4 linked regions of the Homo sapiens genome follow. The protein of the gene in region 2 interacts with the protein of the main gene of each other region in a pairwise test. Each region holds a gene or a part of one and is shown on either strand. Other genes may lie near its edges. The genes, in order: NR4A3, VASN, VWC2 and ZNF837.

Region 1 (7,034 bases), on a different chromosome or scaffold from region 2:
CATAAAACTTAAGGTTGGATAGAAAAATGATGTTGTATTTTTCAGAATCCATATAATTTGGAAATGACACATGGAGAAATAAACATATTTCGTCCTCCAAATTTAAACAAATGCTTGCTTTTTAAATTGAAAACATTTGTGCAAATGAACGTATTTTTACCACTTAGGGTGAAACTGTTCAGAAATTACCTGGATCTATACAACTCCAAATAGAGCAGAAAGTTGAAATTTATTTGGGAAGCCTGGGCTGCATTAATAAAAAAAGAAAATAAATCCAGGTAACTTGGGCTTTATGATCTATTTTGTGTTCAAACATCTAGATTTGCTTTTTAACATTTACTTCCAGTCATTCTCAACCCCCATGTTTCAGTTTTACCCTGTTACCTTTTAATTTCATTTTAGGGGATAGTTTCTAGATTGCTTATATAAAACTTAATATAACAAAGCCAACCTATGTCAAGTCTAAGACATGTTTCTCCCACCATAGTAGGTGATTTTAGTTTAAAATGCAAAATTCTGAAACACAGGCATACTTCTGAGGTTCCAGCATTTAAATTCTTAGCAGTCTGTAAGGGTAGGAAACGTGTGTTTCCTGAATAAAGCTTTCATTGAACATGCAGTAATTTCTAACACTCTATTTCTTGCCATCATCCTCAAGGCTTTATGCCAATTTGAGTGCTGATGGCATTTTGCTTCAGGTATACATTTTCCCAATAACCTGAAGCCTTCCCTACATTTGTGTTTAAGGACAGGGAGAGATCATTATGGTTCAATCACCGAATTCCTATCATTAACTGCACTTCATGTCACATTTTTAAAGAACTCAATTTAATGGTAGAAAGCCACTGGGTAAAACCTGCTCCGGTTCCCTTAATTAACAGTTCTGTGGGGTGATTCTCCCCCATCTTGCCCCCACCCTTTCAAGTATAGATTTGTTTTCGAGGGATTGCTGCAGAAAAGAGAAGCTGTTGGGGAACACTTAATTGACATTTCTGGACTCAGAATGTATTACCACTCTGGTATTTTGGTCAACTCTCCATTATTTAGAGATAATTATATTTGTAGATTATTCATAATTCTTGTTTTTTTCTTTCCCCCTTTCTGCTGCCAGTTTCACTGTCCTTCAGCATTTTCCACTGAAATCCTGTAAAAATCAAATCTGCTAAAGGAATGCAGTTACTTGAAAGTAGCTCTGATAAAGCTTGAGTAGTTAAAACAAAAAATGGCCAAACTCAGTGGCTAAAAAATAAAATAAAATGACCAAGATTCTGCATTTAAAACATCATAATCCCAAATATCTGTAGGGCACTTAACGTATTGCAGTCTTTCCCCAAACATTTTCTCATTTCTCTGCAGAATTCAGGTAGTGATATTTACAATCTGAAGATCAAAAATAATTGTTGCTTGTTGCTATGTATATCCCTCCACAAATGTGCATTTTTACAAAACTTTATAGCTTTTGTTTAATAATGAACTATCTGTACAGCTCTTTAAAGATTATAAAGCACTTTCATATATATTTTTATCTCATTGAATACACAGCTCTTCTCTGAGTTTTATTCATTGATAGGGAAACAGGCTTAGAATGAAGTGTCATGCCCAACATGATACAATTGGAAGGTGGAAGATCAAGGTCTTCTATTTGAGTCTTCTCTCACTAATTCTGGTGTACTCCCAGATATATCCTATTGGCCTCCCAAATCCAAGTTACCCAGTCAGCATCCTGCTTTCTCTTTCTTTCTACCCTGTCCAGCACTAGAGGATAAGGAATAATTTGTGTGGGTTTGTAAATGACTGAAATAATGGCCAGTGGGGTGAGGAGTGAGAAGGATGGCACAGAAGTAAGTGTCTGATAAAGTCTGGGAGTCAACAGCAAAAGGTAGCACAGCAAAAGAGCAAGGTCTTTTCCCTAAGTGGCAGAAATAACACTGAACTCAGGAGTCAGGACAAATCAGCTGGAAACATCTCATGGGCAGTTAAATCACTGCTTACAGCCTGCATAAGGCTTCACCGCTCCAGGCCTCAGCTTCCTCGTGGGTAAAATATGGGGGAGGCTGATGGCCCTCCCACTGTAAAATTTCTCCGTTAGGCCTATGAGGGAATGAATTATGTCTACACCTGGCACCGCATGTGATACAGAGGTAGGGAAAGGTTCCTAGAGGACACAAGACCCCAAGTTCTATCTTCTATGGAAAGAGGCAGCTCTTTCCATAGAAGAAGACAGTTGTCCCTGTCTCCTAGAGCTGCAGAGCTGTGAAAAGGGAATGGACTTTGGGGTCACGCAAACGTGGGTTGGCATCCTGCCTCCATCTCCCTTCTCTGAAGGTGTGTCCTGAGGCAGCTGATTAACCTCTTCAAACCTCAACATCCTCATCTACAAAACAAAGAAAATTAAAACACTGTTTTAAAACACTGTTACTAAAAATAGCTAGTGAGTGGCCAGAATTCAATCTTAGATGTGTCTGACTCTAGAGCCCCAGCTCTTACTGTAAGGATTAAATGAGACACAAATGTCCAGGGCTTGGTACGCACACACTATCCCCTCAGACACCCTGGATGGACAGACAAAGCAATGAGGTTTTTGCATTTTCGAAGTCACAGGTCCTTTTAAGACTCTGCTGAAAGCTCTCCAGAAAAATGTTCATAGGGCAGTGTCAGGCCAGGAGGTTCACGGACCCCCGGAGTCCGTCTGGGGTGGCCTGCTGCACATGGACCTCAGTAGAAAGCCCCTGAGAAAATGGATGTGAAGGTGCTAGGAAGGGCTGTAGGAAAGCATGATGTGCCGATTACAGCTCTCAAACCGGGAAGAACAAGGATGCTCCTACACTCACTTAGAAGCTCCCTTCAGTGAGGGGGCTGGGTGCGGAGGGGAGGGGGCGGCGTGCGCTCACCTTGAAAAAGCCCTTGCAGCCCTCGCAGGTTCGCACGCCGTAGTGCTGGCAGGCGGCGTTGTCCCCGCACACGGCACACGTGCCCTCGCCAGACGACGAGCTCCTGCTGGGCGGCGACGGCAGGCTGGGACTCTCGCCCAGCAGGCTGGACGCGGTAGGGGAGGGCGTGAGGCCGAGAGGCGGGAAGGCCAGCGGGGCCGCCCTCTTGGCCAGCGGCAGCCCGTACGGGTGGCTCTCAAGCGCGGCGGCCTGGCTGCCCGCGGCGGCTGCGGCTCCCAGCGGCAGGCTGAGCGCGGCAGCGGCCGTCGGGTCGTAGCCGAGGTGGTGGCCGCCGGCCGGGCTGGGCGCGGGGGGATGCGGCGGCGAGGGCTTGAAGTGGAAGAGCGGGAAGCGCGCGCCGGCCACCGTGGGGACCGCCTTCATCGGCGGGTCCAGCAGCGGGCCGGGTGCGATGCAGCCGGGCGCCGAGGGCAGTGCCTCGTCCCATAACGCCCCCGCCTGCGGGGGGAAGGCCGGCGTGGTGGGGGTGGACGGTGGGGACTGCTTGAAGTACATGGAGGTGCTGGGCAGCACCTCGTCCTCCGGGCTGGAGGCTGGAGGAATGGATGGCTGCTGATGCTGCTGCTGGTGATGGTGGTGGTGGTGGTGGTGGTGGTGGTGATGGTGATGGTAGCTGGGCGCCCGCCCCTCCTCCACTTTGATCAAGGGCCGCTGCATTTGGTACACGCAGGAAGGCTTGAGTTCGTAGTTGCTCGAGTAGCCCTCCACGAAGGTACTGATGCTGGGCAGGGACGTGGTGGCTGTAGCCGTGATCTCAGTGCTGCCAAGGTCCATGGTCAGCTTGGTGTAGTCGGGGTTCATGATCTCCGTGGTGTATTCCGAGCTGTATGTCTGCGCCGCATAACTGGAACCTGGAGGGGAAGGGCTATATTGGGCTTGGACGCAGGGCATATCTGCAGGGACAGAGAAAAGGGTCTCTCAGAAGCAAGTTAACACTTGTTTTCTAGCCAACAGGCAGCATTGGGTTCACTGTTCTCTAATCTGGGAAACAGAGAGGAAGTGTCATCCTCTCCTCCTTCTGGTAGCATAGACACAAAGCCCCACACTTATTTTCTTCATCCCTAGTAAGGAAGCTGAATTCCTGACAAAGGGGTGCCAAAACCTGGCCTCCTGTGGACTCCTGTACCTATCTTTCCTCCCTTGCCCTGTCCTCCACTAGATTTGGGAAACTTGAAGTCTTTCCTCATAAGCTCAGAGATGTTTTTAAAAAGAGGCTTTGAATCCTATAAACTAATTGGAGTGGGCTCCTCAGCTATAACCTAGGGGGACAAAGAGAAAGCCAGTGGTTTATTTGGGAGGAAAGAGGCCATTGGTCCCCCAAGGCATACACATTGATTTGTAAACCTGAGTTAGGCAAGAAAAACTACCCTGTGAGAGATTTAGTGGCCAAGGGAGAGAGTTGACATTCTAACATTTTATGAGTGCCAATTGAGGTTGCCCACACACGTTGTGGTTGCTTTCTCCCACCTCATCCCCACTCTTCCAATAGGGCTAGCAGCCTGCACAAACTGGACCCCTGTTGATAACTTCAGTCAGCTAGGTGGGGACATAGGCCCAGGAAATTGACTCGGGAGAGTTTGTACCATCTGCAAAGAAAAAGATCAGCAGCTGCAACAAAACACCCACCCATATATATATATATACACACACACACACACACACACACACACACACATATATATATCCCAATTCTAACTAATAAAACATATCAGTGACTGTTTTGTGATAACAGTTTATAACTATCATAATAGGCAAGTTAGTATAGGTATTTCCTTATGACACTAGAATTAGTACCCATGAAAAAAAGCAGTTTCTCAATAGACTTGATTTCTCTGCCAGTTTGACTATGTTGCCCCCAAAGTGGCTGGTATCCAGGGTGCTTACTATTGTTCAGAGAGGCTGAACTGAGTGAGAAGGCGCTGAGAATTATTGGATGTAGTGGATGATTTATCTAATTATTTTTCTTTCTTTATGGCTAAATATAAATGGTAAAAAACGGCGGTTTTTGGTGGTTGGTTTTTCTGAGCCAAAGGAAAACCAGGTGCTTAACGCCTCTTTGGAGTCTATGGTGTAAAAGGTGTGACTAATAGAGAAGTGAATACTTCACATTTCCTTTGACATCTTTCTCTTACCCACATTTCCAAATCTGATTGAGTCATGCATGTATGGGATGAAATCTTGACTTGAAAAAAGGTGATGAGGGCCTGTTGGAAGAAGCAGTGATGAGGAGAGGCCAGTTCAAGCCTTTCTTTAACAAGCAGGGCCTTAAAAATACACTCACTAGTTTGAAGTCCAGTTACTTATCTTGCTGTCCAGTTGTTGGGATGAAATGAAAGGCTAATCATTTAAAAGAAAGAACACTGCCTGATCTTTGATCTATTCTCCTTCTCCCTTCAGCACCTCTAGGATTTCTCCATTACTCTTTTCTGTCATTCTTTCCGGCCAATCCCTTTTTACTGCTCTTATTTGTGTCTTTCTGAGGTTTCTAGCTAGAAGATGAGCTTGCTGGGATTGTATTCTATTTATCTGCATTATCTATGGTGCCCACACAGGCTTGGCACCTAGTATTCCTTTAACAAATTTGTAAAGAGGTGGTACAAACCAAAAGTGCAATCTGTTCTTTTGCCAAACTCAAATTTACTCTTTGGTTTTCATCTCAAATGCTTTTCTCCTTCCCTCTGAGCTTCAATCATCCAAACTTCTGCACCCAAATGATTTGGGTTTTATATAAATGAAAATGCTCAGTATTGCTCTAAGTGATTCCATAACTCTTACATGTGCACACTGGCTATAAAAGAAGAGCAAAAATGAAATTAAAAATGTATAAAATACCCTAATCTATTGGTGTATTTGTATTTCTCTTAGGAAAATTAATTTTGAGCAATGCAAGCTTAATTTAATTTGGCTGCTCCACTCAGTAGCAACAGGGTGTGGTATACAGAGGAGCTTCCTGTGAGGAAGCCACCTGTGTTGTGAAATTCGCGGCCAGCAGTCACTGTCCTGGCACTGGGCAGGTCGACCACGCTGCCCGCCGAGTGTGTGGTTCCCCCACCCACTTCCCTCAGCCAGGGAGGAGAAAAGGGTCTTGCCTTCGGACCTACCTGGAGGGTATCTTGCGCGCTGAATGGTGGGGCTGGGGGTCTCTCCAGCGGAGGCTGAGAGTGTAGGAGGAGCGGACGTCCGGCGAGGCGAAGCGCCGGCAGTGCTGCCCGGCACCGCTAAGGGTCCAGGCTCAGGGCCCGGGCTTGCCGGGCTGCCCTCTTCCGCAGTGGGCTCTACAGGCAAGGTGAAAGAGGACATAGGTCACAGTGAGACCAGGATGGGTCACTACGGCCCGGGCTGGGCGCATTGGGGACTGGGGGAATTGGTTGGCAACCTCTAGAAATGTTACATTAATTACAAAGAATTATCGTAAAATTAAGGGTGATTAATGGTACAGGAGTCCCCCTGGGCAAGAAGCATCACACGGCCTCGGGGAAGCCGAGGAAAGGTTGTTGGAACCCACTGCGCCTACCACCGTTTTGTGGCACCAAAACCGAGGCTAAAAAAAAAACGCGCAGCCTGTTATTGCCCAGAAATTGATCTCTCTGCCCCCACAATTGATTCCGAGCTTACGAAGTCAGGAAAACCAAAGAAAGCAGAACACTTGAGGAACGAGCTCCGCCCGAATACGGGGGGTCAGTGAGTGTTCACCAGCGGAAAAAAGCCATTTTCCAGCTCCGCCCGCCCCCACCCCTCAAATACAAATTTTACACGTTGCATAGGAAATGCACAAGGTCCGGAACGAATGCATGAATGCCCCGAGGAATTAAGAAAGTCTGCGCTTTTCATTCTAAATGCTAATGGAGCTTCGCTTCTATTAGCCGCGAGTTTCGAGGGCCAGGGGTCAAGCAAACAAAAGGGCACAGCGATGAGAAGGCTGGCGCTGGAAGCAAGGGGACGAAGCGGACGGCGTTAGCGGCTGATGGGACGAGCGGAGGCAGGTCCCCTGCACCCAGAGGGCGGTGTCTTCGAGGGTGGGCGGCTTGGAGGCTCCTGGCCACCCAGCGGCCTAGCGGGGGCACATTCCTGAGGGCGCCGAGC
Region 2 (7,034 bases):
GAAGTGGCAGCGCGTCTCCTCAGGGCTGGCCAGTGTGACGTGGCTCTCGCGCACCCAGGGGCCAAACCAGCTCAGGGGGCACACGCAGTTGAAGGGGTTGCGGGCAGCTGCCAGCAGCCGCAGGCGGGGGAAGAGGCCCGAGAGGTCGCCAGGCAGGGCCTGCAGGCTTAGGTTGCTCACATCCAGCTCCTGCAGGGCAGCCAGGCCGGCCAGGTCCTCGGGCCGCAGCTGGGCAATGCGGGTGTTGCCGGCCAGCCGCAGGCGCGTCAGGCCCCGGAGGCCTCGGATCACAGGTGGCACTCGCTCCAGCTGGTTGTCGGACACATCCAGGTCGTGGAGGTTGCGCAAGCGGCTGAAGAGCCCCTCGTCCAGCTGCTGCAGCCCCAGACCAGCCAGCCGCAGCGCCTCCACGTTGGCAGTGTCCAGGATGCCGGGCTCCAGGGCCAGGAGGCTGTTGTGGCTGAGGTCCAGCAGCAGCAGGCGGGGCAGGCGCAGCGGGGGCAGTGCCCGCAGCTCGTTGTCCTGCAGCTTGAGCTCCAGGAGGCGGTCGAGCGTGTCGAAGGCACCAGGCTGGATGTGGCGGATGCGGTTCTTGCCCAGGTAGAGGCGCTCGAGGCGCCGCAGGCCACGGAAGGTCTCATTGGTGATTTCATGCAGCCTGTTGGCTGTCAGGTCCAGGTTGCTGAGGTTGGCGAGTGGCTGGAAGACCCCGCTGGGCAGGCTGGCGATCTGGTTCTGTGACAGGTCCAGGAGCTGCAGGCCCGGCAGGCCGGCAAAGCTGCCTGCGTCGAGCATGGTGATGCCGTTCTCAAAGACGTACAGCCCCACCGTGTCGGGTGGCACGTCTCGGGGCACCGTGGTCCCCTGGCGGGCAGTGCAGAAGACTGTCTGTGGCTGGCTGCACTGGCAGCCGGATGGGCAGCCCTGCACCCCAGGCCCCAGGGCCAGTAGCAGGAGCAGCGGCAGCAGCAGAGGGACCCTGGAGCACATCTTCTGTCCCTGGGAGCAGAGAGGAGGCAGAGACAGAAGACTGTGAGTCAGGGGCCTAGAAGGCAGACACGCCAGGAAGAGCCAGAGGGAATTCACTGCTTCTGCCCCCAAATGCAAGAGAACCCAATGGTTATGAGTCAGGTCGCCAGTGCCCCGACCCAGGTTCTGTCCCAGCCCCGTCACTCCCTCACTGTGTGACCTTGTCAATGCACACAGAGGTCATCATGGGGCATGACATCCACTGAACGTGCAGTGACCATGCACTGCTTCCTCCTGAACCCCAGGCCCTCCTGCCTCTGCCTAGGTAGGTTCCCCCATCCCCTGCCTCAGAGATGGACCAGGAAGGAGAGAATGGTGGGACTTGGAGCGGCAGCTCCTCCCTACAGGGTCTGGAAGAGGGGGCAGGCAGGCAGCTGGGTGGGTGTGTAAGCAGAGAAGCTGGCTGCCTTGGCCGCCGGCTCCTGCTGCCACGCTCCGTGTCCCGCCCTCCTTGGAGGAGGGAATGCAGCGGGAAGACTTCACATGGAAACTATGGGATCCATGTTTTTCCACTTGGGCAGTCAGACCTGCTTAGGCTGGGGGCTGCGGGCCGCCAGGAAGTGGCCGGCGGGAAGGTTCCTGGAGGAGGGGCAGAGGCCACAGGCATTGGCAGGTGTCCCCTGTGAGGGAGGGAGGCGGGGAGCTGAGGCTGGTGACAGAGCTGGAGCTGGGGGGCCACAGGGCTCAGGTGGGGACACTGGCTACATGGCAGCCCCAGGGGCAGTGCCAGGCCTGGGAAAACTCTGCAGAGTCATTCATCTACTTTTTTTTTTTTTTTTTTGAGACGGAGTCTTGCTCTGTCACCCAAGCTGGAGTGCAGTGGCGAGATCTCGGCTCACTGCAACCTCTGCCTCCCAGGTTCAAGCAATTCTCCTGCCTCAGCCTCCCATGTAGCTGGGACTACAGGTGCCAGCCACCATGCATGGCTAATTTTTGTATTTTTTTTTTTTTTTTTTTTAGTAGAGACAGGGTTTCACCATGTTGGTCAGGTTGGTCTGGAACTCCTGACCTCAGGTGATCTGCCCGCCTCAGCCTCCAAAAGTGCTGGGATTACAGGCATGAGCCACCGTGCCCGGCTTCGTCTACTGTTTCTTGGGGTCTGCCCTGAGCTGGGCACCAAGAAAGATGAGCAGCAGCCATCCCCTTGGCAGTGATGGTGCAAGTCCTTCCCATGTGCCAGCGAAGTGGGAAGGACGAAGGAACACTAAGTGTTTACCGTCACCTCAGGTAGCCCCCCAGCAGCCACGTCAGGGCAGACAGAAGAAAGCAGGGCTCATGGAGGTGCAGGGACTCGCTGCCATTGCGGTGCCAGCAAGTCCGAGCTAGAGCCCAGGTGTGCAGCAGCCACCTGTGAAGGGTGCGTGCCCTCCAGATGGCCCTGGGGGCGGGGGCTCCCACCAGCCGCTCCAGGCTCCAGATCTTAGCTGCACTGCCCAAGTCAGGCAGGTCTGTGGCTGGCCCCCATCACCTAGACTCCTGGGGAGACCGCTGGGGCCGTCCCCAGGAAGAGCCCTCCCCACTTTGGCACCCCTAGAAGTCCCTGAGCCTCATACGGGGTGCCAGCCCATCCCCAGGAAGCATCCTGCCCAGTGGCGCCTGCAGCTCACACAAGAGCCCTTTGTGCTGGAGTCCGGGCTTCCCCTTCCCCCACACAGGCTGTGCAGGTAGTCCAGGGAACACGACCCCGACCCAGCCTGCACTCCGCCCCAGGCTGGGGGGACCCGTCCATAGGGCTCCCTCTCCCCCAGGTACGTGGGTTCCTGGAATGTGAGGAGGAGCAGGTGGTCCCAGGACAGATTAGACAAGTCACTGGTGAGGTGACCACTGGGGTCTGCGGGTAGCTCGAGGTGAAGGAAGAAGCCCTTGTCCCCGGGGTTGGGCCCACGCAGGCCCTGCCCACGTGTAGTATCGCACTGCCAGAGTCGTCTCCCCTAGGAGCTACCGACCCTGAGCCCCTAGCCAGTTAGCGACAACAAGCACCCTTCAGAGGCCAGCAGGCTAAGCCTCCCCAACCTAGCGGTGTCCCCCTTGCTGTCGTGTGCCCCCTCACCTCCCTAAGGTGAGACCCAGCCTGCCTTTGCCATAGGTGTCTCCAGGCCCACTTAGCTCAGGTCTGCTGAGTGAACAGCCCAGGAGGGCCTGGCACTGAGCACTGGAAGAAGTTAGCACCCCAAACCCCAGGCACGCGTCCCTGGCCCGGCCAGCCCACCCCAGGGGGGCTCGTGTCTGATGACCTAAGGCCCTGGGGCCACACCCCTAGCCTTCTCTTCCCCCATGGGACCCGCTCCACCCTCACTGACTCAGAGGACGGCGGGTGCGGCCTGGCCTCCAGATGTGGGCTGTGAGTGACCCCCACCCACCCCATGTCCATATGGGGGGTGAGGCCACCTCTGCCTGAATTAGCCCTCCCAGCAGGGCCAGACCAGGGTCAGGAAGGATGCAGCCAGGTTCCAGAGTGGGAGGGGATCCTCCACGTGGCCAGCCTGGCCAGCCTGGCCACCACTGTGGCCGCAGCTCCCCTTGGGCCTCGTTTAAGGTCACAGTTAAGAGCGCTCACTCCAGGCAGGCGGCCCTGTGCTCAGAGGTGTCCAAGCTGTGAGGCCGCAGACAGTGACTTTGCTCTCACACCTCGGTTTCTTCATCTGAGTATCTGGGACACTTCAGGGCTGCAGTGGGGGATGCATGTGGAGTCCTCAGCCCTGCAAGGCCAGGTGTGCAGGCCAGCTCTTAGGGGCACGTGCTGGGGGGTGCTCTTCACCCTGCACTGGGGAGGGGGACCAGCCATAGCTCTGGGCTCCGTAATCTGTTGGGTCTTTAATCAGCAAGGTTGTGAAGGGAGAGGGGATGCTGTGGGTCCATCTGGCCACAGGGTGGCTTTCCGGCTGACAGGTAGTGAGCTGTGGAATGTGCGTTCCTGTTAGCAGGACAGGGGTCTAGGTCAGGACTGTGGGCTGGGGTCCTGGGCTGACCATCCAGCAGGCGGCAGCCAGCCTGCTTCCCAGCCCCGTAAAATGTGCGGTGAGCTCTTTTGCCTGAGCCCCAATTCTACCCCCACATCAAAGGGAGGAGGGAGGAGGCAGCGCTGGAGCTTTGGAAAACCCCAGAGTTTGTAAGCTACAGGCTGGCAGCTCTGAGGGCACCGCCAGGGACTCCTGGCACTGAGAACCCATCAGCCAGCCCCGAGAGGAACCCAGCGAGGGAAGGCTGACTGTGGAGGGGACGGTGGCAGGGGACAGAGGCCAGAGTTCCTTTCTCAACTGTGGGCCTCAGTTTCTCACCTCTGGAGTTGGTGCAAGCAGCCCTGCCCCCTCACCCTCTGGAGTTGTAGTTTTCTGTTGTTCTGTTTGTTTTCAAATGGGGAAGTTCTTTTAACAAGTTCTGGGAGCTGTCCCGCCCGCCTGGGGTCTGGGCGTGTGCTTGGTGTGTGCGTGGGGCTGGGGGCTGTCTACAGGTCACACGGTGGTTGCCGCCGCCCACCCACCCTCCCACCCGGTGATCCCAGGACCTGGGCTTTGATATTTGATCACTAGTCAGGCAGGGAGGTGAGACCTTTTCCTCTGCCTGGTGCAGGAGGTGTTCCGGAGGCAGCCCTGGGATTCCTGGGATTCGGGGACGTCGGGGGGTGGGAAGATGACGCAAGGGTCTGGGGCCTCCGTCCTCCACCCAAGTTCCTCAGCCTTGCTGAGTGCTGCTGCCGGCCTTGCTCCCTCCCTGGCACAGTAACTGGCATAGGGCGACAGGGTCCACAGCCCGGCCACGACCCCTACCTCAGCCCCCATTGTGCAGTGGGCGCTGCTCGTGGTGCTCGTGGTGCCTGTGTCTGGGGTGACTTGGTCTGTGCTCGGAGCACTTGCCAAGTGGTCGGTAAACATTCACTGCGGAGGGCGTCACTCATAAACGCAGAACTCTGCCTGCCCCCTGGGCGTGGGTACTACTAAGGGAGAGGGTTTCAGGCCAGCTTTACACAGATCAGACATCCCCACACCAAGGCTGCCCTTCACCCTGGGGGCTGGGGAGCGGGGGTGGGGTATCTCTGGTTCTGGAAGGGGGCACGTGGTGGGTGAGCTGTCCCTTGGCGGCCCCTTCAGCACAGGACTTCAGGGAGGGGCCCTATGAGTAAGGAGGACAAGGCACTCGTCATCTCAACTCCCAGGGGGACGCCCACCCACCTCTGGGGTACACCACACACGCCCAGGGTCAGGCGGGGACGGGCCAGGGGATAGCATGGCTGGGGTGGGACCCAGGCATCTGGTGACCACATCAGCCCCTGGCGAGAACATCTCACTGATTCTGGGGCAGGCGGTGTGCCTGCTGAGTAGGGGACAGGCTTGGACAGACAGATAGACAGTCTGAGGCCAGTACGCCCCTCCTGTGCCGTATGCTTCAGCGTGGGTGCAGGACAGGCGCTGCAGGTCTGACCCTGAGACTCCGGGCCCCCGCTCCTCATGCTGGCCCGCCAAGGCTCTGTGTGGCCGGTCAGGCCTGGCAGCAGCCCAGCCCCGGGAGTCTGCCAACCCCTCCAGGCAGGCGGGACTGTGCCGGCGGCCAGGACGGCTGGCTCCAGTTTCGCTGACGTGTCCGAGGAGGCTCAGGGCCCGGCTGGGTCCGCCCCGTCTCCCCTTCCTTGGGACACAGCAGTCCCAAGGGCAGGGCAGAGAGGTCAGGGGTCGTGGGCCCTCACAGAAGGGGCAGAGAGGGCTGGGCCTCGAGTTCCTCAGGGACTGCGGCAGGTAGACCCTCCCTATAGGCGCGGGGACCCCTGGCTGGTGATTGAGCGGGGGTCCCCATGGGTGTCAGCCTCTTTCTTACTCCATCCACCACCCCAAGCTGGCGCTCTTCATTCCACAGATAATGCCACAGCCAGGAGCTCAGTCAGGCACTCACACGCTTTGTGACCTCATCCAAGCAAGCTCCCCTCTCTGGGCTTCCGTCTCCCACCTGTGACGCCAGGGCTTTGCCCGCCGGGCTGCACATCAGAATCATCCAGGAAGCTTTCTAAAAAAAACCTCCATGCTGGGGCCCCACCCCCAGGCCAATTAAACAAGAAATTCTGCCGGGCATGGTGGCTCACGCCTGTAATCCCAGTACTTTGGGAGGCCGAGGTAGGACGATCACGAGGTCAGGAGATCGAGACCATCCTGGCTAACATGGTGAAACCCCGTCTCTACTAAAAATACAAAAAAATTAGCCAGGCCTGGTGGCAGGCGCCTGTAGTCCCAGCTACTTGGGAGGCTGAGGCAGGAGAATGGTGTGAACCTGGGAGGCGGAGCTTGCAGTGAGCCAATATTGCGCCACTGCACTCCAGCCTGGGTGACAGAGCAATACTCCATCTCAAAAACAAAAAGAATGTCTAGGAGTGAGACCCAGGCAGAGCTGTATTTTGGAGAAGCTCCTTGAGCGAGTCCTCCGCACAGCCAGGGTTCAGAACACCAGGACAGAGGGTTGCAAAGGGGACAGTCAGGATGTCAGCTCGTCTTCCTGTGCAGGGAGGAGGCTCTGTATCCTGGAGCAGGTGTGGACCAGCTGGCAGGGCTGGGAGAGGGGCAGGCACAGGGTCTTCCCTCCTCCCTCCACCCAGGAGGCTGGCCCGGCCCCAGGTGGGTGCCTTCAGTAGCACCGTGGGTGACTTGGCAGCTGCCAGACCTGTTAGCCCAGGGCAGGGAGACCAGTGACTAAGGCCAGGCCCCAGCTCAAGTGAGCCCCTGGGGCGGTGGGACGTGCCATCGTAGTCACAAGAGGTGCAACCTGTCAGGGAGGACACCTGTGGCCCTGGGAGCTGTGCAGTGGCTGCAGCCCAACTAGAAATGGGCCAGTCCAGATGCCACTTTCGGCACGCGGCAGGTGTGATGCCACCAGGGCTGGGCCCTCACACGGGGCCTCCTCACTGCCCTGTCCCCACCCAGGGGCAAGCACCCATCTAGTAAGGCCCTAACCTGCAATTAACCCTGAACTTGCCAGAAGAACACCTTAGTCACCAAGGAAGGCCGCCAGCCCTAAGCTTCCTG
Region 3 (7,034 bases), on a different chromosome or scaffold from region 2:
TTTTCCTTACCAACCCCTGCTGTTATCTGTATTCTCACCTTCCTGAAAAATGGTATAAGTAGTATTCATCTCTCTAGCCTCAGGACTGGAATGAATAAATGAACACATAGAGAATGTCTTCATTCTCACTCCCAATCCCAAGAAACCATGTTCTTTGGATCCAACAAATTTTTCCCTACTCCTGGCACACAATAGGGGCCTTGAGAATGAATTCTTTTCTCAAATGCCCAACTGTTTCTCCAGGCTACACATCTAAATTCTATCCATGCAAAACTTGGAAGATTGTGAAGAATGACATTTCTGCCATAAGGTATTCTATGTAAAATGTAGGTGGTGATTTGCTAATAAGAAGTACTAATGCTTTAAACTTAGGTTGTCCCTAGTTAAGTTTCTTCTGGGAAAATGATAACTTTAGAAGAGGAGAAAAGTTTGTGTCATCTGATCGGAAAAAATGTGCATGGAAGTTCCTGCTGCTGGTTGCAGAGTAAATGATGTGCTCGGCATCTTACCTTTAGTTTCCATGTGGGACAAAGAGCACAGCCTGGCAAAAGGCCCATGGTGCTTGAGTTGGCACGTGGGGAACCATCAGCTTGGTGGGTGCTTACAGTCAGAGCAGCAGCTTGGTATCTGACCAGGTCAAGGGACAGGCAAATCTTTCACCTCACTCCTAGACATTTGGGTCAGCTGCCTGGGCCTGCTGACCACGCCAGTGGGGATCCAGCTATGGGTTGGTGAAATGAGCCTAAAAGAGGGTCACTGTGACCCAGAATGCCAGATTGGCCCTGATGACTGGGGATTAAAGCCTCATGTCAAAGCTAGAACCCACGGCTGGAGCCACGGCTGCAGCTTCCATCTGCTCCTTGGCAGCCTCTCTGTATCTCAGGAGGTGGAAGGCACTAGCACATTGTCCTGGAGGACTCTGAGCAGGAAGCTGCTTTTATGAGTGTACAGTGGCCATCCTGGGGCACCAAACAGAGCCCTGTGTTGGAATGAGGGTCCTTAGGCAGTGTAGGGACTGGAGCCAGTGTAGGGAAGAGCTGGCCTGAATCCAGCTGGGTCTCTGTCAGATGTCCCTGGAGGACTCGTGTGGAGTTCAGTGGTGGCTTTTCCTCCCTGATGTAGTGAGGCTGCATCTTCCTCAGCTGGCTGCTGAGTTCACGTGGGCATTGGGGTTTGTGTTTGTTTTATTTTGCTACTTTAACAACATTCCCTTCCTTACATGAGGGCTGTGCAAGGCCTAGGTTTGAGCTCAAGTGATGTCTTAATGGAGGGAAAGTGCCCATTTTCATCCAGGTTGGTATCAAAGATGGCTCTGCAGAGGAGGCCACGTTTGAGCTGGATCCATGACAGGTAGGAGCTTATCAAATGTGAGCCAGCGAGACAGGACAGCATTGAGGGGGCATAGGCCACTGCTTCACCAAACGAGGAGCATGGCGGAGTGGGCTCAGGGGGTTGGCATGGCTGAAAAGGGCAGGGCATTATTTTCATCTGTTGAGTCTGGGCACACCTGCTTAGTTGGGTGAAGTCTGATCAGTGATCAGGGCCCAACACTGGCAAGTGGCCCAGTGGCCCAGCAGGTGGTCTGAGATGGTGAGGCAAGAAGGTTTTACTGGAAGGTGGGTTCATGGGTTAGGATTGGAACTGCCTCAGGCCTAGGACAGCCCGCCTGCAGGAGATGGGAACATAAACCAAGTGAAGGCAGGGTTCTTTTATGTGACCTGGATCCTGGGTAGGGGTCCCGGAATGTCCCTATCAGATGAGAAACTCTGACTTCAGGGCCGGTGACCAGCTTGAGGGCTTCTGCCCAGGCAGAACTAGCAGGGCACCTGGCTGGCATCTGAGGGACTCACACAGCTTTGCCACTTGCTGTCACCAGCCTCACTTCCTCTGGGAATTGAGGCAGGCCCAAACCTGGGATGGGAGTACATAGGAGCCCAGCATGGGTGCTGGTGAAGGCAGATGTAGGTGGTAGGAGGTGAGGCCTGATTGGCGATCCTAATTCTAAGCATCAACTCTGATTTTTTAGAAGTGAACAAATCTCCAAATACAATCATGCATCACTAAATGACAGGGAAGCATTCTGAGAAATGCATCCTTAGGTGATTTTATCATTGTGTGAACATCATAAAGTGAACTTACACAAATCTAGATGGTGTAGCCTATTTATTACACACCTAGGTTATATGGTATATCCTATTACACACCTAGGTTATATGGTATAGCCTATTGCTCCCAAGCTGCAAACCTGCACAGCACGTTACTGTCCTGAAAACTGTAAGCAGTTATAACACATGGTATTTTTGTATCTAAACATAGAAAAGATATGTAAAAATAAGACATTGTAATCCATGGGACCACGTCGTATATGCAGTTCCTTTTTGACCCAGTTATGGGGCACATGAGTGCGGCTGAATCAGGATTTCTAAATATTTAATGACAATATAACTGACAATCAAATTTTTTACAAAGCTACAAAACCTTTGAGAAAATAGCATGCTGGCCTGTGTGCATGCCTTTAAGCAGTATTCTGTGGCATGGATTCAATGAAATTTCAGCTCCAGTGGCAGTAAGAAGTGTTTTTTTTCCAGGCCAGTGATCTCTGCTCCATTTGCCAAGGTGTGCACCTTCATGCAGAAAGCTGCTGGACGAGGCTGATTCAGCGCCTGCTGCCTAAGGACCTGGAGCCTTTTTGACGTTGCAGTTGGACCTTTATCTCTGGTCCTGCTGTATTCCAGGGCCCTCCCCGGCGATATGACATAGGGTGTGCTCTGGCCTTCTTTTAAATTCCCAAATGGAAATGGTGCTTTTTATTCCCTCCCTGGTGTATGCCTAGGTGAGGAGTAGATGCCACGTTGTGCTGCTTCGTGAGGACAGACCTCACTATCTGACCCGCTTGCTCCTTGCTGACTATCCTGATCTCTATAGGGGGATGGTGCTCCCCTCCCCTGGGGCAGGGTGTTCTGGCTCTCCATCATGTAATCCACACCACCTGGGCTTGAGGGCTTATGCTCTGAGTCCTTCCAGCTGAAGGCTTCTGACATGCAATAAACCATGTCTCTTGCAACTCAAGGTCTTGGCTTTTAAAACTCAGAATTCTGTTCTCATTCTGCTTGCTATGTATATATCCCCCTTGAGACAAAAATGCTACAGACTGAATGAGGGAATTGGTAGGAGACAAGGAAATGAGACCCACAATGATGACAGCAACAATAAAGAGCACCACTGGTTATGGTAGCAAAAAAAAAAAAAAAAAAAAAAACCTAATTGTGCCAACAACAACAAAAGAAACTCATCTCAAAAACAGGCCTTTATATTACTTCAAGATTGATTTTAACTTCTAAGGCTACATTGCCAACCAGGTCAGTGTTTTGTCTCAGGCTACACTAAAGTTTTTCAAAGTTTCCTTTCTTTTTTACATTTTTTTGGCCAAGTACACATACACACACTCCTTAGCCCTCACTCCCAGGCAGGTTGACTGTGGTCTAGTGCCTCAGAAAGAGACATGGTTAAACTCCAGTTGAGCTTTTGCTTCTCGTAATAGCCAGTCCACTCAGTGGAGATTTCAGTTTTTAGTGTTTGCATTGTATAGACAAAGGGAGCATCTGTGAGAGTTACTCATGTTCTTTACCTTACAAGCGGTATTTGTATCATGGACGTGGGGCACACAACTCAACTGGGGTCTCCCTGCCCCTGGCAAAGCAGGAACTCAGCTTGATACGACCCATTTCCATGTCCCCCATTTCCATGGTCTTTCTAGTGAGTATCCCCACTTCCCAGTTTTGCTTCTGATGGCTGGGTCTGCATATGCTCTTCCTGCTTTGTCCTGGGTCAGCCAGATCAAAAATCACTCCATTGGTGGTAACCAGGAGATAAATCACCATGCCCTGTGTGAGTGACCATGGAGGGTCCCGTTAGCCACGTACAGCTTTCTTGGGAATGGCTGGTATGCTTGATTTGGATAGCTCAAGAAGGCAGAGTATGAGCCCATGGCTGGAAAGTAGAGAGAGGCAAATGGAAGCTTGGTTTCTAACAGAGCATCGTGATGCTGGATAGTGGGCAGAATGACCTGGAGGAAATTGGAATCACCATGGACTCGCAGTCAGGAGCCCTCAGTGGAAGAGGACCTTGTGCTCACAGGACAGACATGCCCATGGCATGTTGCCTAACACCTCTGAGTCTCAGTTTCCTGTTAGTACAAAGGGTCAGTAATTTGAGTACGTGTATTTTAGCGCTGCTGTAAAAGTTCAGTGAGGGAATATTCATAGAGCTCCCGGCCCTTGGCCCCGCTTGGATGCCACCCTGTTTCTCCTCCTTCACCCCTTTCCCCTTTCCTATTCCAGTGTCTTCGTAACTGGAAACACTGGGAGTGTTCCATGTGAGTCTGGGTGGTGACTTGACAGGGTTATAGACAAGGGATTCACCTACGTGGTGAGGGGATGGGCAAGAACTCAGCAGCAAGTTTTTATTTGTTTAATTTTTAAAGAGATGAAAAACATTTCTTCAAAAAAAAGTTTAATAAGAAACCCAATATGCAGACCACAAATTAAACAGTGGCTCTGGCTGGACAGGAGAGGGAACATCATAGCCCTGTGGCCCGTCCTGTGCGTTTGCACCTAAGACAACTCACCAAACACCCAGCATGCCTGTGTCCACACTCTGAAAACCACTGGGCTGGATCATTTTTTAAACATTCCTAAAACACTTAGGTGTCTTCGCAGAAAGTTTAGGGAAAGAAAAGTATGACCCTGTAGGGCCAGGCTCACTCCTGTAATCCCAGCACTTTGGGAGGCTGAGGCGGGCAGATCACTTGAGGTCAGGAGTTCAAGACCAGCCTGGCCAACATGGTTAAACCCCATCTCTATAAAAAACACATAAATTAGCCAGGCATAGTGGTGGGTGCCTGTAATCCCAGCTACTCAGGAGGCTGAGGCAGCAGAATCGCTTGAACTCGGGAAACAGAGGTTGCGGTGAGCCGAGATCGCACCACTGCACTCCAGTGTGAGCGACAGAGCGAGACTCCATTTCAAAAAAATATATATGACCCTGTAGGATAAACATGACAGCAGGCTAAAGTGCTGATTGTGGGCTTGTGTTTCAGGTGTCTCCATGCGAGAGGTGTCGCTGTGAAGCCAACGGTGAGGTGCTATGCACAGTGTCAGCGTGTCCCCAGACGGAGTGTGTGGACCCTGTGTACGAGCCTGATCAGTGCTGTCCCATCTGCAAAAATGGTATGTGAGATCCCCGTTGGTGACGGGGTGCACCTCCCACCCTGATGCACAACCCATGTGCTGCTTCATGGTAGACGGGACACATACGGATACGTGAGTTTCATCCTATGTATCAATACACATGCGTACACACGTGTGTAATCTTTCAGCCACAGTGGTTCTGTAGCAAGGCCTTCTCTCTCTTACTGGCATCAGCACCATGTTTTATGGATGTTAAGAAGTTCTTTGGGGAGAAATTCAATTTCCACCTTTGAGGAGAGTCACTTATTTTAATTTAACTTTGTTTGTTCTTGCAAAGCTGTTTCTATCTTTCCAAGACACATTAAACACACTGGTTGGGCTCATTTACTTTTCATTACTAAGTGAATGAAACTTGGAACATAATTGAATATTTTTCATAAGCAAATTAGGCAGGAAGAGAGTCCCTTCCTATTCCCAGTGAGAGCCCCTGGTAGATCAGAAGCCTTGCTTACTTTATGAAAATGAAGTGGCAGGATGTCCTTGATCCTAATTTGTCATGGGAGAGTGTTTCCTCATCCTGACAAACGATGATTACTCTGTACCTGAGGTACTGAGGGCATTACACTATAAGACGGTTTTTGACAAGAGTGCATACCCAGGCTGGCTGGGCCTGAGAATTATGGCCCGGAGGGCAGTTTGACAAGAGGCTGAGCAGAGCTTGGGAAACAGCGGACAGAGGGGACACAGCCGGAGTCTACAAGGATCTGAGTGGCCTCGCTGACAGGAGCGACTGGGCTTTCTGGATGTTGCCCAGGGTATGCTGTGGGGACCCCTGGTTGAGAGCATTCAGAGCTAACTTGTGATGCTGTCGGCCGTTCATGTGGGTTGCTGGACCGAGGCTTGATAGCTGTGTGGCATGGGTTTGGTATGTGGCAGGCATGTGTTGGTGGATGGTGACACAGGGGTGGTCATGGTGCTCAGACAATTCCCAGAGTCTGTCATGACAGTCGAAATTGTGCGGGCCATGAGGTTCCATGGGTACCTTCGACCACGTACCTGTACATATCCAGATTTTACTACAACACATTGTAAAACTCTTGAGGTAAATAATTGGAAGAGGGAATGATGTTGCTGTTGAAGGATAGACCTGAAAGAACAAGATGACTGTGTTAGGAATGTCATAATCATTGTAGCATAGTACATCCAGTCCTCCAAAGGCAAGTGGACAGTGTTAAAACAAAGATGTCACAGAGTGTACTTTATATAGGGTTGGCTGGTCTCTTGTGCATGTTAATTATGAAGAAATCCTGAGGTAGGATTCCATTAGACAAGAACGAGGGGGACTTTGAGCATGGAGTGTGTTTTTTTTTTAAAAAAAAAAATGATGTTGAGACACCAGCTGTGAGATGGAGGGAAATCAATACAGTTTACTCTACTAGTGTTAATTACCACTAATTAACACTAATAAAGGGGGAAGAAGACTCTGGGATTGGGGAAGGAGAGGCAGATGGAGAATCTGGCAGAGTCTCGGTGTGGCTTTCAGCACACCCGCTGAGGAGCCCGAGTGAGCGCCTCTGGTCTGCTGGGAGAGCTGAGGGCTGGCGCTCAGGCCATGTGCCCTGCATGTCGGGGGTACTGGACGACAACAACTCTCACTGCGTCAAGGGGTTTAGTGAATGGCTTAAATATGGGTTGCTTAAATATTTGGCGTCTTAACTACCCAAGATATTCCATGTTTTTCCTGTAAATTTTGATTATAGACTAAGTCTTGGCATTAGATAGCCGGGAATCCTAGCTTGAGTGTTAACAATAGGTGAGAAGACAGGATTTCAACCCCTGGATTTT
Region 4 (3,942 bases), on a different chromosome or scaffold from region 2:
GACAATAAAGGCGACCCCGCTCGTCAGTCAGACCAGGGCAAGCTTGCCAGGGCTTCACACTTCACCAAAGGGAACCCTTTCTGCCGCGACTACCGAGCTGCCAGGGCCGGGACAGGCAGAAGCCTGCCCCGAGGTCTCACCTCTGGAGGGTTACGAGCTGTGCCAGGCCGGCTACGGTAGAGGGTGTGCAAATACCCCGCGGTCCCAAGGCTCCTGAAGCTGCCTAAGGGATATGAGAGACCCTAGGTTCGAATCCTGCCTCCATCGTCTTATGTTCGTGCCTCAGGAGAGTCACTTTGCCCCGTTTCCTCGCATACCAGAGAGCCCAGTAACACGCTCCGCGGCTCTGCGGAGAAAAAGACCCTAGAGATCGTGGACACAGCGTCTGGGCCGTATCAGCGCCCACTCGAGATTATTACTGCTTATGCCTGCAACCGGATGCTGTGCGCCCGGTTAGAAAAGGTCAAATAAAACTCGAGTTAGGGGAAGCCTGTGGACGCCATGTGTACAAAGTGAAGTTTAATCAAAGTTACAAACGTTGGTGGGTTTTCCGGGACAAAGGCCCCTCCTCGACGCAGGGTTCGCTTGGGCGACGCGTCGACTCTCGGCTCCCTGCAGTCAAGGCGCGGCGCGGCCCCCGTGCCGCTTCCGGTGCTCGTTGAGGTTGGAGCGTTGGCTGAAGGCGCGGCCGCAATCTCCGCACGCGTAGGGCCGCTCGCCCGTGTGCGTGCGCAGGTGGCGCACCAGGCTGCAGTTGCGCACGAAGGCCTTGCCGCAGTCGCGGCAGATGTAGGGCTTCTCGCCCGAGTGCAGGCGCTCGTGCTGGCGCAGCTCGGAGCAGCCGCGGAAGGTCTTTCCGCACTCGGAGCAGCCATAGGGCCGCTCGCCGGTGTGCGCGCGCTGGTGTTGCACCAGGCCCGAGCGGCCCTTGAAGGCCTTTTCGCACAGTGGGCACGCGTAGGGCTTGGCGCTGCTGTGAGTGCGCTGGTGCCGGCTCAGGTTCGAGCGCTGGTTGAAGGCCTTGCCGCACTCGGGGCACGCGTAGGGCTTCTCGCCGGTGTGCACGCGCCGGTGCTCCACGAGGTGCGAGAACAGCCCGAAGGCCTTGGCGCAGTCGGCGCACTCGTACGGCTTCTCCCCGGCTCCCGACCCCCGTCGGGGACTCCGCTCGCTGTAGTCCCCGCAGGGCGGGCACCCCAGCCGGAAGGCGCGCCGCGCCAGGACGGGGCCACGCCGGTGGCGCTCGGCCGAGTGCGTCTTCTGGTGGCGGTACAGGCCGGAGCAGCGCACGAAGGCCTTGCCGCACTCGGCGCACTCGTAGGGCCGCTCGCCCGTGTGGATGCGCTGGTGCTGCAGCAGGCTGGAGGTGCGCGTGAAGGCCTTGCCGCACTCGTCGCAAGCGTACAGTCGCTGGGCCGGGGGGTCGGGGACAATAGGGCGAGGTCGCGAGGTTTGGCCGCACTCAGGACACACTGGGGGACTCTTGCCCGCCTGCTGCTGCTGGTTGGGGCGGAAGCGCTTCCCGCACCGGGCACACGGACGGGGCTCCTCCGTCGCCTGCAGCCTCTCCTGGGGGATCCGCAGGGCCCTCCACGCAAAGGCCTCGCCGCACGCGCAAGCCCGGGGCTGCTCCACCAAGGGGTTCCTCCCGCGGGAGGTCGGCTTTGGGGTCCTCGGGCAGGTCGGAGCGCCAGTCCCTGGTTGGCACGGCCAACAGTCCGTGTGGACCTCACACAGTTGAGTCCGGGGGTGGTTCTGGATCCGCTCCGGACAGGGGTCACACACGGGTGGCGTCTCCCCAGCGGGCGCCCCGCGATGCCACGCCAGGCAGGAGTTCCTGCTGCAGTCCCCGCCACGCGCTGGGCTCCTACAGGGGCCCTCCCGGGCTTGCAGCCCCTCGGGGATAACCAGCTCAGGGTTCTGAGAAGAGGTGGGGCCGCACGGCTCCCGCACGAGGGGTCTGGTCCCGGCGCTGTGCCGGGTCCCCGGGCCGGGGCTCACCCCGAGGCTGCAGCCCCGGGAGCCCCCGCCTGGGGGAGTCGTCCTACCGCCCGCCGCTCCACGCAGGTCCCCCTTTTGAGTGGGGCGGCTCCCAGCTCGGTCCTCTTCGAGGGGCCTCGGCTCCTCGGGCCTCTTCTCCCGGGCCCCGGAGGCACCCTGGGCATCGGCCTTGGGGAGTCCTCCCTGCCCAGCCTTCTGGGCTGGAGCCTCCATCCTGGGGCGCAGAGTTCTGGTTGTAGGATCTGGAAGAGCAGAGAAGAAATGGAGGTTGGCGGTTCCCAGGAGGAGAGAAGTGGAGAACTGGGCCAACGAGCGACCACCCCACAGCTGGCACCTACTGGGCGGCCCCCAGCTCTCTGCAGATGCGAAAGGGTAAATGGAGTGACATAGGCAGCCCGTCCTGCCCCTCTTCAAATTGTCACCACCCAGACCCCAGAGAACAGCTTCCCAGGCTCTGCCTGCCCGCCATCACCGTTCCTCCCCAACACTAGCTCCTAAAACACTGTGCCCCTGGCTAAGGCCCTCCCTGGTCCCCCTTCCCCAAGCAACAGGGACTCCCCCGTTGCTCAGCTGCCAGCTCCCCAAAATCTCACTTACTCCTGCCCTCCGTTTCTCAGTGGCAAGCCGACACTCCGGGTCCTCCTGGCTCCATTCACTGCCATTGTCCATGTCTTCTGAGAGGTGTGAGGTGAGACTCACCTGACAGCTGAGAGCCTGGCCGGGAGATCCACGCTGCAGAGGCCAATGCTGGACTTCCCCTCCCCTCTTCAACCAGGTAACGGTGGTGCTCTCAAGGCTGGCAGCCTCATCTACAAAATGGGTATGATAACGGTAAGTATAACCAGCTGAGTAGGGAGACAGGCAGCCCAGATCATTCAAGCAAGTGTGAACATTAGCAACGCCTGGCGCCTGCTATTACTATTTTAAAATTACACTGTGGCTGTATTAGTTATCTATTGTTAAAGCTGCTTTAACAAACTGCCACCCCATAGTGGCTTGAGACAGTGCAAACTTGTTATCTCAGAGTTCTGGAGGTCGTAAGTCCTAAGTGAAGGTTTCAGTAGTGTGGGTTCCTTCCAGAAGCTCTTGGGGAGGACGTTTGCTGACCATTTCCAGCTTCTAGGTGCCACCTACTTTTCTTTCTTCCATCTTCAAGCCAGCAGTAAGACATGTTCATCTCTCTCTTTCTGGGTTTGTTGTCAAATCTCCTTATACTCCTTATAGGATTCTGACCCTTCTGCCTCTTGTGATCACACTAGGCCAACCACACATAATCCAGGAATCTCCCCATCTCAAGATCCAAAACTTCATCACACTCAGTTCTTTTGCCTTGTGAAGTAACATAGTCAGAGGTTCTAGGAAACAGGACGTGCAGATCTTTCAGGGGGCCATTATTCTGCTTACAACAGTGGACTTTGCTGAGATACACACACGTGCATATATAAATATTCATCTCCTAAGCAAGCAATTGAATAGCAAGTGAAAACAAAGGACGGCCGGGCACGGTAGCTCACGCCTGTAATCCCAGCACTTTGGGAGGCCGAGGCAGATGGATCACCTGAGGTCAGGAGTTTGAGACCAGCCTGACCAACATAGAGAAACCCCGTCTCTACTAAAAATACAAAATTAGCCAGGCATGGTGGTGCGTGCCTGTAATCCCAGCTACTCAGGAGGCTAAAGCAAGAGAATCACTTGAACCCGGGAGATGGAGGTTGCAGTTAGCCGAGATCGCACCATTGCACTCCAGCCTGGGCAACAAAAGTGAAACTCTTTCAAAAAAAGAAAAGGAAAAAAAGAAAAGAGAGAGAGAGGGAGGGAGGGGTGAAGGCCGGGGGGGGGGAGCCGGGCGCGGTGGCTCACGCCTGTAATCCCAGCACTTTGGGAGGCCTAGGTGGGCAGATCACGAGGTCAGGAGATCGATACCATCCTGGCTAACACGGT

Evidence for each region.
Region 1: the proteins of VASN (region 2) and NR4A3 interact in binary tests that used the Homo sapiens proteins (3 or more experiments, as listed by UniProt).
Region 3: the proteins of VASN (region 2) and VWC2 interact in binary tests that used the Homo sapiens proteins (3 or more experiments, as listed by UniProt).
Region 4: the proteins of VASN (region 2) and ZNF837 interact in binary tests that used the Homo sapiens proteins (3 or more experiments, as listed by UniProt).

Annotation. Positions count from the first base shown.
Region 1 is NC_000009.12:99,824,851-99,831,884, reverse strand, and holds part of NR4A3 (nuclear receptor subfamily 4 group A member 3), read right to left. Parts: intron 6,227-7,034; 5' UTR 6,053-6,226; intron 5,156-6,052; exon of another isoform or gene 5,115-5,155; coding exon of another isoform or gene 5,084-5,114; intron 4,538-5,083; exon of another isoform or gene 4,419-4,537; intron 3,845-4,418; coding exon of another isoform or gene 3,843-3,844; coding exon 2,892-3,842; intron 1-2,891. UniProt on the Homo sapiens protein: Transcriptional activator that binds to regulatory elements in promoter regions in a cell- and response element (target)-specific manner.
Region 2 is NC_000016.10:4,374,834-4,381,867, reverse strand, and holds part of VASN (vasorin precursor), read right to left. Parts: intron 1,000-7,034; 5' UTR 991-999; coding exon 1-990. UniProt on the Homo sapiens protein: May act as an inhibitor of TGF-beta signaling.
Region 3 is NC_000007.14:49,797,613-49,804,646, forward strand, and holds part of VWC2 (brorin precursor), read left to right. Parts: intron 1-5,098; coding exon 5,099-5,228; intron 5,229-7,034. UniProt on the Homo sapiens protein: BMP antagonist which may play a role in neural development. Promotes cell adhesion.
Region 4 is NC_000019.10:58,367,119-58,371,060, forward strand, and holds the end of ZNF837 (zinc finger protein 837), read right to left. Parts: intron 2,811-3,942; 5' UTR 2,701-2,810; exon of another isoform or gene 2,599-2,700; intron 2,244-2,598; 5' UTR 2,215-2,243; coding exon 619-2,214; 3' UTR 505-618; downstream 1-504. UniProt on the Homo sapiens protein: May be involved in transcriptional regulation.